Regions from separate parts of the Homo sapiens genome. Here regions 1 and 2 are each reported to be linked to region 3. Evidence: microRNA targets listed by miRTarBase, many of them from high-throughput screens and not tested one by one. Region 3 holds a microRNA gene; each other region holds the end of a gene's coding sequence.

Region 1 (4,000 bases), not on the chromosome of region 3:
ATGAATGACTAATAAATATTTAGCACTCAGTAAGCACTAGGCAGTCCCATCATTTTCCTACTCAGCATTTGATGCAACTTTCAGGTTGCAATCTCATCTCAGTACTCAGTCGTATAAAGTAGAGAACACAGGAAGAACATGCTGAATTGGGGGAATAAATAGAAGACTCGTAAAGAATTTTCCAAGCTGCATCTCTGCAACTCTGCAAGCCCAGCCAGGGACTCTAAGGAGAGCCCATGCTATTGCTGTCAGGAAACTGTAAAAAAGCCAAAGTTGTTAAATGCCATGGAGGAGGCATGGCAGCCTTGAAAAATGGAAGGAAATGTGTGATTTTCTCTTTCACATTTCTTTCTTAGGTACATATGATGGTTCCATCGATGCCTGTAAAGGGGACTCTGGAGGCCCCTTAGTCTGTATGGATGCCAACAATGTGACTTATGTCTGGGGTGTTGTGAGTTGGGGGGAAAACTGTGGAAAACCAGAGTTCCCAGGTGTTTACACCAAAGTGGCCAATTATTTTGACTGGATTAGCTACCATGTAGGAAGGCCTTTTATTTCTCAGTACAATGTATAAAATTGTGATCTCTCTCTTCATTCTATTCTTTTTCTCTCAAGAGTTCCATTTAATGGAAATAAAACGGTATAATTAATAATTCTCTAGGGGGGAAAAATGAAGCAAATCTCACTGGATATTTTTAAAGGTCTCCACAGAGTTTATGCCATATTGGAATTTTGTTGTATAATTCTCAAATAAATATTTTGGTGAAGCATACAAGTTTTATTTATCAGAAAATTTTATTAAATTATCTCAATGCGGGAGTGATTTATTGACTGAAGTTACAACTAATTGAATAATGTTGGACTTACATAAGGTTGGGTTCAAATCCCAGCTCTATCACCTACTATGCCCTGGACAATTTATTGTCTTCTTTGTGTCTCCTTTTCCACCTATAAAATGGAAACTGGAATTCTGTGAAAATGAAACTACATACTTACATAAATGTTTGGCATAGTACCTGTCACAGGGTAATAACTGACTTCACAGCTCTTGTCCCATTTCCCTGCTTCCTCTTTATTTCTTTCTCATCTTTTCTCTCTTTCCTTCTTTCTTTCTCTCTTTCTCTCTCTTTCTTTCTTTTTCTCTTTTCTTTCTTCTCTTTCTCTCTTTCTTTTTTTGAGGCAAAGTCTCCCTCTGTTGCCCTGGATGGACTGCAGAAGTGCCATCATAGCTCACTGCAGCCTTGAACTCCTGGGCTCAAGCAATCATGCCACCCCAGTCTCCCGAGTAGCTGGGATTACAGGTGCACACTACCATGCCTAGCTAATTTTAAATTTTTGTAGAGAGGCATCTTGCTTTGATGCCCAGGCTGGTCTTGAACTCCTAGGCTCAAGGGATCCTCCCACCTTGGCCTCCCAAAGTGCTGGGATAACATGCGTGAGCCACCACACCAGGCCCCTGCTTCTTTAAGTATTAACATTTCTTGAAAAATTAGCCTTTGCTCCCCCATTTCACAAGCATTCCTTGACCCTCTCTCTAAACCTATCCACAGATAATTCAATACAACCACCTACCTCCATGGTGTCAGACCTCACAGTCACTTCTGTTCTCATCGCAGCAGCATTAGCCCCTCAGGGCATCACACTCCTCCCTCACTGCTGTTCTCAGCCTCTTCCTTCTGGTTGCTTCTCTCACTTTGCCTTTCCCTGGTAATCTCATCTAGACTACGTTTTAAATCCTGCCTACAGTCCGGTGACTCACAAATCTGGATCTTCAGCTCTGACCTTTCCTAGAACCTCAGATTAGTATATGCCACTGAACACTAGTATATACCATTGCCATGTGAATATCTAGTAACATTTCAAAAGAAAAGTGGTCAACCCAAACTCAACAGTTGCACTTTCTTAACCTACAGAAAATAGCACCCCCACCCGACCCCAAGGCTATTGTAGGTGCCCAGTCTCCCTCTGTCACACCACCTACTTTAATCTCAGCATAGTACTTTTCTTCCCCCAGTGTATTCTGTTTTGATTGGGTTGTCTACCTCTTCTCAACACTGTCTCCTCCAACTACAACATAAGACACATGACAAGAGAGACCTCATTTGTCTTCCTTCTGGCTACATCCCTACCACTTGCCTCATAGAGGCTGCTCAGTGAATAAACATTAGCTACTCTTTTTTTTTTTTTTAAGCACAGCTATCTTTATCCTGAAGACAGACATATATGTTTCACATAAATATTCCCTTTATTATTTTATTTAGGGCCAGTCTTGGATAGATCCCTACTGATTTAATAATATAAATACCCATTTTTACATATATTCCAAAATCAGTTACTGCCCAGATTTTCTTTTAAAAATTGTGGTAAAATATGTATAACATAAAAGTAACAATTTTAACTATTTGTAAGTGTAAAGTTGAGTGACATTAAATACATGCCCATTGTTGTACAATCATTATCACCATCCATCTGCAGAAAATTTTCATCTCCCCAAATTGAAACTTCATATCTATTAAACAATAACTCACCACTCCTCCCTCCCATGCTGCCCAGATTTTTCATCCATTAAATTCAGGAAAGTATTTGGTTATTTATTGCTGGGAAGTTCCCCTTCCAGTCTCTCATGCTGTTGCCGTCAGACAGGATTGGACCAGAGTTATCACGAAGGCTTATTCACTCATGTGTTTGGTGCCTGGGCTGGGCGGACTTAGACAGCTGGGGCTTCTCAGATATGTCTCTCTGCACTCTCCCCATGGGCTCTTAACATGGCAGGGCCGGGGGCACCAGACTTCCTACATAGCAGCCGATGAGCCTCCCAAGAGAAACTGCAGAACCTGCATGGCCTTCTCTAACCCAGCTTTGGAAGTCCCTTAGCATCACAAAGACCTGCCCAGGCTCAAAGGAAAGGAAATAACCCATCTCTTGATGGCGGCAGGGAGGAGGTGTATCAAAGAATTTATGGACATATTTGAAAACCACCTTGTCCTGACTCAGCAATCCGGGAGCAACGCAGCACCTTAGAATATGTCTGTGTATGAGATAAAAAGAGAAAAGTGGCTGGGCGCAGTGGATCATACCTGTAATCTCAGCACTTTGGGAGACCAAAGTTGGTGGATCATTTGAGGTCAGAAGTTTGAGACCAGCCTGGGCAACATAGCAAGACCCCATCTCTATCACACACAAAAAAAGCTGGGAGTGGTGGTGCACATCTGCAGCCCCTGCTACTTGGAAGGCTGAGGTGGGAGGATCATTTGAGCCCAGGAGGTTGAGGATGCAGTGAGCTGTGATTGCAGCACTGCACTCCAGCCTGGGTGACAGATCAAGACCTCGTCTTAAAAAAAAAAAAAAAAAAAAGAAAAGTACTCCAGTGCTACAAGGTGGGAAACCCAGCATATAGGGCATCCTCAGCCAATCTAGGAAGGGGGCCCCCAAAAGGGCCAAGCCAGTCTGCACAGTGACCTAGCATCTGGCAGCTTCACAGAAAAGTAGACCAGGGTCAAGCCTTGAAGGGTGAAAGTCAGCCCTCTGAAGCGACTCTATGTGACAGAGACCAGGAACAGCAGGAGTGAGATGACCTGACTCCAAGCTTCTCCTAGTTTAGAGGTCTGTCTCAGCGCTCCTAATTCCAGACTACAGAAGCCAATCTAACTGGTTTAATGAAAAAATAGATTTATTCAAAGATATTATGCAGTTCACAGAATTTCCAAAAGAGCCAGAGAATTGGAGTCTACACATCTGGAAATAACGCTCACAGACCACACTGCAGGACTGCTCCATCAGAGACTACCATGGCCACTAGCATGGGTCCCAGTCTCCACGTACAGCTTGTACTGCAGAGCCTGGGCACTGGACATTGCTGCTTCTGTGAGCTCGCCTGAAGGTGGCCAGGGACACAACTCATTGGATGTGGAGCTCTGCCATCGTCTTATATTTAACCCTGGTTTCAGAGCTCTCTGTCTTACAAGAGAAATGGGAAAATAAATTATGCGGCTGCACCTTG
Region 2 (4,000 bases), not on the chromosome of region 3:
TGGAGCAGTGTGGAGTAAGCTCAGCCTGGGCCCGGCGGGGACACAGCTAGGCCTCGGGCGCGGGGGTCGTTCAGCTCGAAGGAGCAAGGACTTTATAAATGAGCTTTCCTCTTCTGCACACTTAGGGAACCCTCCTCCTGTGGGGTAACAGTCTGGCCGGGGGCCCAGTCGTGGGGCGGTGTCTGCAGTCCGGGTCCAGATCCGCGGCACGCAGAGCCCGGGAGGCCCGAGAGGAACCAGCGGGCAGAGGACTTGGGAAAGGCGCACCGACTTCCCTGCAGGCCTGACTCCGGTCTCCATGGCGAAAGCAGGCAGGTGGCACAGCCGCGGCTCTCCATGAGGGAGCAGCTTAGATTATATGCTGTTGGATTAAAATGTAATAAACATAGGAGTAAAAAAAAAAAAAAAAACTCAGCGTTTCAAGGGTCTGAGGACTCATCCAGTTCCAAAGAGAAAGAACACTCTCCATGCCACTGTAAGCCTAGCGTCTGCTTGAACACCTCTGAGGACGGGGAACTCATTACCTTACAAAGCTGTGCCTTGCCCCTTTTCAGTGTTATACTTTGAAAACAGATTTTTAAAAAAATGATCGCTTCATGTTACCGTATTTTTATTAAAATAAGAGAGAGGCCAATACGGCAATAGAAGTTGTGCCAGTATTTTTTGTTTGGTTTTTAATCTACGAACTTTCTGAACTGTTCAGAAGTCGGGGTTCGCGGGGAATGCGTGGTCTCGCGCCATCAGCGATGACCCTGGGGCGCAGCTCGGGCCCAGGCAACGAGAACTCGGGAGTCTCCGCGGTGAGACCCCAGCTCTCTCCTTCCAGGGTTCTGAAAATCCCGAGGGGCAGCCCCCAGACCGCTTCCTGGCAGGGCAGAGGCCCAGCCCAGAGGCCCCGCTTCCGCCTGGGAACGCCAACGGCCCAGCTGCCTGGGGAAACAGAAAACGCCTAAAAAGTCGTCTTCGGTAACAGATCACCAGTCTCTGAGTTTCTTTTACAGGGAGAAGAAAAAAAATTTTTAAGCCATGAAAGTTTGGAAAAACAGCAATTCAACGCGTAGATCACTCGCTCAAAGACCCCAAACACTTCCTGATGAGCGGAATCCAGAGGCGCGGTCAGCACAGGCGAAGCTGATCCCTCCCCCAATCCTGCTTAGGAAGTTGTACAAAGTCTTTTGTTTTGGGGGGGAAACAACAAAAGGTAAACAAAAATGACACTTTGAAAAGGAGAGTCTCTTTGTCTCAGTGGAGTAAAAAGTTCCTGTCCCCAGGGGAAAGCGCCTCGGTCCAGCACGGGTGGCAGGGCCAGTGAGCACCCAGCCGGAGGGAGACCTGTTGAACTTCGCAAAATTTAAAAAAATGTAGTCACTGGAATAGCACCGTAGTTTTGAACACTTCCTCCTGGTAACAAAATGTGTACTTCTTTTGGTTATTCTGTGCTCACATGTGACATATCCAAACTGTCTTATTTAAAAAAAAATAATAATCACCTCTCGCTACAAAGGCACCTGGCACCTGCTCCCAGGCGGGGCGAAGGCCATGAGCACCTGAGTACTGGGGAGGATGCCCAGGCAGTTCCTCTGGACTCAGACATGCTTAGAAAACTCATCATTCCACCTGGGACCTTCAGTATTTTATAATAAAGAGATTTTGTTTTATTTAATGTAACCTTCAAGAATTTCAACACACAAAAATGCGGGGGTGGGGGTGTTCACAATTTTGATAAGCACAGTTGTAAATAGAAACATTCATTCATTTCTCATAAGATTATAAATATTTGATACTGGAACTGTAAAATGCACATGTTTTATAAACTAAAACAACAAAGAAAACAAAAAACAGAAACCAACTTTGCTTCCTGCTAAAAAGGCATGTCATTTCATTGAGTTTCCTAAGCAGCAGATGGTTATTCAGACTTTTAAATTACAACTTTTGTTTTTATACTTTCCTTTTTAAAAAGGTTTACACTATTATGTACAACGTAAAACTATTACTGCAATGAAATAAAGAGGTTTAAGGCAAAGAGCGAAGTTCACCCTCAGTCCTCAGGGAGACCAGCGGGACTCCCAGCTCAGCCGTGTGCACACCCCTGGGTCAGCCGTGGGCACACCCCCTGGGCTGTCCCAGCCACAGATGGACAGTTGGATTGGTCTTTCCCCATACACTAAACAGAAGACAGTGTGGCGTTATATATAGATAATGTGTTTGTTTATATACATATATAGGTACTTGGTGGGAAATATATTGAATATATTTAATTTACACTGTACCACACCTTCAAAAATAAAATGTATATTTTAAAAAACAAGAAAAGACAAAAAGTGATGATAAGAAATGATTATTTACACACTTTCTTCCTTCTTCTAGATCCTGGAGGATTCTGAGTTCTTTTGAAAGACAAGGTAGCCACATGTTTCAGAACTGTGGACTCAAACACGCCTGGTGTGTGTGTGTGTGTGTGTGTGTTCACATGCATGCAGACATATGTGTAAACACACATATTTATCTTGGAAGAATGTTCTCTATAGCAGAAGCAGCCACTCCAAGAAAAGAAAAAAATAAAGGAAAAAAAGAAAAAAATAGGGAAGAAAAGAAAAAGGAAAGGAAGATAGATGATGCCATCTCCCTCTACAGAGCCTTCTGCCCGCCCAGAAACAGTGAGCCATGGCCTCATTTCTGGGACCCTGGCTGGCACCCATGATGGCTGGTGGAGTCACAGGAAATTCCTGGGGCCAAGCCAAAAGGAGGGTCGCCCCACCGCTCTTGGGCTTTAGGCCACACACCCCAGGCCTTTAGCCCCAGAACCTCGAAGCGCTTCTGCATGGAGGCAGTGCCCAGGGCAGGAGGGTTAGGCCTGCGGCAGGACTGCGGTGGGACTGGGGACAGCGACACAGACCACAGACGCAGACGATGTATGCACACGGTTGGGCCCTTGGTGAGGAGGAGGAGGAAAGAGAAGGAGGAGGAGGAAGGAAGGAGGAGGAGGAGAAGAAAAAGAAGAAGAAAGGAGGAGCAGGAGGAAGGAGGAAGGAGGAAGAGGAGGAAAAAGGAGAAGGAGGAGGGAGTTAGGTGCAGGAGGGTGAGGAGAGGGAGCCGGGTGAGGCTGCGGGCCTGGGCGGCTGCTGGTGAGCATGGAGCCGACTTCCCAGAGCAGGCCTGGGGTACGCTGGGCTGCTTCCCAGGGCCAAATCCCAGAACTGGCCCAAGGACCCTGGAAGTCCCCTCTCTCCCACCAGGTCCCCTAAGCTCCCCAAGGCCTTGAGGTGGCTGGTCCAGGCTTGAGGTGTGGGCCCCTCCTGCTGTCCTCACCAAGCCAACACAAACAAAGTGGCAGAAGTCATAGACCAAATAGGAGCTATTTATTCGGTTCACAGTTGTGTGAAATGCAGCAATAAAAAATCTTTGGACTTCAGCAAGTTGTTTTAATTTTTTCTTCTTTTGGAATAATAAAAAAGTGTCCAATGTCATATAATGGAGCTTAGGGGATTAAAAAAAGGTGAAACCCTAAGCAGCCCCCTTCGCAAAAAAGAAAAAAACCCATAAAATTAGCATAATCTCATAAACACAAAAAACTCAAAAAAATATTTTATAGTCAGATATTTTGGATTTTATACCACCTGTAAATGATATATACATAGAATATTTCAGAACCTTAGCTAATACACAATATTTTCACTATTAATGCTGGTATAATCTTTATACACTGGCCCTTTATGATTTTAAATTATTGCATTGTTTAGCGCGGACTGAGACCTGGCCTCCATGCCCCCCGCCCTACTCGCTGTCCGACTTGCCCTCCTTGGCTGTGGTGGAGTGGTTGTACAAGCCCTGTGCCATGAGGTGCACGGCCAGCGTGTTCTTGTTGCCCGTGGCCTTCTTGATCTTGGCGCGCTTGTTCTGGAACCAAATCTTGATCTGTGACTCGTTGAGGCTCAGCTCCTGCGCCAGGCTCTGGCGCCGCTGCTCCGTCAGGTACCTGTTGGTCTGGAACTCGGCCTTG
Region 3 (4,151 bases):
TATTTGTAACTGACCTAGAGCTTTGCTTACTGGTAGGCCAAATGCATTTTGTGTTAAGGGAAAATACAGAGCATGGAGTCTTTTATCACAACATCCCTATTATACAAACGTTAGCAGATGTAGCAAGAGATGAATAGGCATGATTGAAAACAGTTGTATATTGACCTGACACTAATACCACAATAGGCAGGCAACAGAACAGGAGTGATATGCTTTCAGTCGTAATTGATAATGCAAACAAATGAATCCTCAGTCTCATGATAATATTCTTTCCAGCAGCAACACAGAAATGCCTACTGATAAAGCATTCTTCTAGGGTTTTATTCTGTGGGAGAAATTTGCTTCTTTCAAAAGAATTAAACAATGCAAAATTCAGATACATCACTGTTTCATATTCTGTGCCTATTTGTCACTTTAAAATTTACTTCCAGTTGATCTCTAGTCCCTGTTTCTCTCAAAAAAAATCTGTTGAAGTTTTCATGTAAATAGTTTGTCTAAAAGGTTAAACAATTATTGGCTTTAAAATAATTCTAAGTGACTGAAATGTAAGAATGTGTAAAAATTTGGGATACATATTTCACTAACATTTCGAGAGTAATTGCCTTGACTTGAATAGACCATTATCACCTTCAAAGTAGCATTCCAAATTATTGTGGGTTGTCCCTCCTACAGATAATTACTCTATAACCATATTAGATGCAACTTAAATGTGTGAAATAATGACTTTCTATTCTGGTTTAGATACATCCAAGGTGACTTTTGTTTTAATTGATGGTAGAAAATTATTGAAAATGGCTCTAAAAATAAATTCAGTAGAGTTCATAATAATTTTAAAATAAGCATTAATGATAAAACAGTCTTAGAAAATAAGACTATGAAAAGAATCCCTCACCCATCTACCCATAAAGAGATGTTAGATGTTAGATGTTATTTAAAATAATAGGAAATGAACGGTTTTGTAGCATACATAGATTGTATTTACCTTTCACTGTATTCATGAACTCTTTGTGCCATAAACTAAGAAAAATGTATTGAGCTGGTTTCTTCACTTATAATTTGTTCAGCATTTTCTAAATAAGATTGTTCTTAGGAAGTTATACTAATTTTAAAACCTTATTTTAGAATAAAATATAGTAAATATATAATGTAAATATAAATGATATCATCAATGCCAATTTGAGGAAATCTAAGGTAATTCTGTTTAATTTCTGTATAAGCTATATACATAATGCTTGCTTACTATAAGCGTAACAATATTTAAATTATAAGATATTGTTTGGATTTTATACCACAAAGTACTTTGAATAACAAATTGTCCCTGTCTTTAACAGTGAGATAATTCCATCTCTGGAACTAGCCCAATATCGGCCATGTTTTTGCTTAATGAAACCGATCCTTTTCTCTCATACAATGTGATGTGGAGGTTTGCCAAACTCTTTGTTGGAAGAATCATGCTTCTTATTTGTCTTCTTTTGTAGTCTTTTGAAATGGCATAAAAATGCATAAAATATATGACTAAAGGTACTGTTGTTTCTGTCTCCCATCCCCTTCAGATACTTACAGATACTGTAAAGTGAGTAGAATTCTGAGTTTTGAGGTTGCTTCAGTGAACATTCAACGCTGTCGGTGAGTTTGGAATTAAAATCAAAACCATCGACCGTTGATTGTACCCTATGGCTAACCATCATCTACTCCATGGTGCTCAGAATTCGCTGAAGACAGGAAACCAAAGGTGGACACACCAGGACTTTCTCTTCCCTGTGCAGAGATTATTTTTTAAAAGGTCACAATCAACATTCATTGCTGTCGGTGGGTTGAACTGTGTGGACAAGCTCACTGAACAATGAATGCAACTGTGGCCCCGCTTTTTGCTGTCACAATCAACAGATATTCCATCTTTGAAAGATGTGTTCAAAATAGTACTATTGTTCTTTAAGTTTTCCAATTCGTCAGCATCTTCTGGTTTATTTATTCAATTTATATCATGTGATGAGATTTCAATGAAAAAGACTCTGGTTTAAACAAGAATAATGCTTCTCTATCTTTTGTATGCTATAAACAGAGCATGTTTTAGAAAAGGCAAAACTATTTTGTCCATCAAACGTACAGTATCATCATCTAGGTTAGCTCACCTTCCTACTGTTGTAGTGTGAGTGAAAAAAAGACATAAAGTAGGACCTCAGCACCCATGCCATTGACAATAACACACTTACAAATATGTGTTCTTTACAACTTTTGTTAGATGTTCTGGTCAAAGTGGGATAGAAACACCAGATAATTTTAGCTTTCTGCTTCTCTGGGTGAGGATTTGCTCATATAATTCTGCCTCTTGCTATGTAACATGCTAAATACGAAGAAAATAATATATACATAACTATATAACTATCAGAACACTCATGACAGTCATATAGTAGATTGATTTTCCCAATTCAATTTCCACTTTAAAACTTTACCCACTTTCTATGTGCATGAACTGCGTGGTTAGACTTACAGTCATGGCCCATTAATTGCCTCATGTTTACTCATCTGACTTTGCAAGTAAAAGCCTATGCATATCATGGTTTTTCTTAAGTGGTTTGCCTCTGCATTTTTATATAGGACATCTGTCATTAAATTTGATCACAGCAGTTTTAAGTTTACCATTTGTAATGATAATAATTATATAGCAAAATAAAATGCTTTCTCAAGTGTCTATGTTTGGAGTACCTGGATGGCTTCAATGTTCATTTTTTTTTAATGGTCAAATAAATTATCCTTTCTTTTCCTTGATCTTTTAAATCCCATTTGCCTTTAACTCCCATTACAGAAACCCATTGCTGGGACCCGGCTCTTGACCTCATCATAACCTTAAAATATTTTACCACATTCGATATCTAATATCCCACTCTGTCTATCACTTCTTACCATTCTAGTTTCTCATTCTCTTATCTCCAAGGCAACTGTCCTTTCAATATCAGTGTTGCTGAAAAATAAAATCACATCATCATATGGACACATTAATACACATACTCAGGGGCCTCCAAGTGCCTCAGTCCCTCAACTCTGACCCAGCATTTCTTCTACTCCACTCCCTCATGTTTAGCCTAAATGTTTACCTCTTTCCTCAACTGCTCCTTTCCACGATTCCACTCTCAACAGATGAACTGACTTCTGTTTTTCATTGAGAAGCTTGAGTCCATGTGATTATTCCCTCCACTTCCTTGTTTATAGCCTATGAATGCGTAGGATTCTGCCCTGAGTTGTCTCACGTGAGCCTCCTGCCTTGCTTGGGACATCTCTTCCCCTGTGATATCCCCCTCCTCTCTCACCATCTGGCTCCATTTCACATGTAACAAGGTTCAGTTTTCTCTCTTCTCAAATAGAAAACAAAAGAAATTTGAGAAAAACTTCTCTATACTTGCTTTATCCTCAAGTTACTTACCCCACTTCTTTTCTTCTTTTTAAAAGCTAAGATTTTAGAAATAGTACATAGTAGCCTGCAGCACTGTCTATATTTGTTTACTTCCCATTTCACCTCAACTATATGTAATTTGGCATCTTCTACCATTTCTCTCTCCCACTTGTGCATAACATCATTCTAATGACACTGCTTTTCCCCAAATCACCAGTGAGCTCCATATTGCCAAATACAAATCAAACTTTTCTGCCAGTTGTCCTACTCGAACTCCCCTTGATGCCTGACACAGCTGACCACTTCTTCCTAAACTCCAGTCCCCATTCACTTTTGTGATCCTACTCTCATTTGGATTTCTCTCTTTATTACAGTGATGTCCTATTTATTTATTTATTTTTAAGAAGCTCTTCATCTGCTTGAACTCCCAATGCCAGTATCCTTCTGAGACCCATTCTTAACTTTATGGCTTTTTTTCTCTTCTCTTGTCTCACAATCTTTGAAGGAATCTCAGGCACGTGAATGATGTTTACATCTGCTCAGATGCTGCAGATACCCAAGTCTTTATCTCCAGCTTACACATCCCAAAGCTACATATCTGTCTTCTGCTCTTCTCACAGACCAAAGCCCATCCATGACTACAGATAACGTATCATCTTTTTCCCAAGGGATAACACTCTTGATCTACTTGGAAACCAAAGCCATAAATCTCAATTCATTTCATGTTCCTGGACCTTGCTTCCTCTCCTTTTCTAAACAT

What was found. Region 3 holds the annotated microRNA hsa-miR-181a-5p (AACAUUCAACGCUGUCGGUGAGU, at 1,610-1,632, shown strand). A microRNA usually pairs through its seed, bases 2 to 8, with sites in the 3' UTR of a target mRNA and lowers its output. Matches are read on the target gene's strand: a 7mer-m8 pairs with bases 2 to 8, a 7mer-A1 pairs with bases 2 to 7 and ends in A, and an 8mer does both.
Region 1: the mRNA of CFI is a reported target of hsa-miR-181a-5p. The part of its 3' UTR that is shown has no 7-base or 8-base seed match.
Region 2: miRTarBase lists EN2 as a target of hsa-miR-181a-5p. Seed matches in the 3' UTR shown: 7mer-m8 at 1,745-1,751.

Annotation. Positions count from the first base shown.
Region 1 is chr4:109,737,467-109,741,466 of GRCh38, reverse strand. CFI (complement factor I) reads left to right here. Exons shown (of 13, transcript NM_000204.5): 13 at 357-772. The coding sequence ends at 574. Among named protein-coding and RNA genes, the nearest start is that of PLA2G12A, 9.4 kb to the right of the region's middle.
Region 2 is chr7:155,462,462-155,466,461 of GRCh38, reverse strand. It overlaps EN2 (engrailed homeobox 2), which reads right to left. Exons shown (of 2, transcript NM_001427.4): 2 at 1,631-4,000. The coding sequence ends at 3,775. Among named protein-coding and RNA genes, the nearest start is that of EN2, 6.3 kb to the right of the region's middle.
Region 3 is chr1:198,856,589-198,860,739 of GRCh38, reverse strand. MIR181A1 (microRNA 181a-1) reads left to right here and starts at 1,587; the gene lies at 1,587-1,696. All of the region lies in intron 2 of MIR181A1HG (MIR181A1 host gene), which reads left to right. MIR181B1 (microRNA 181b-1) reads left to right here and starts at 1,758; the gene lies at 1,758-1,867.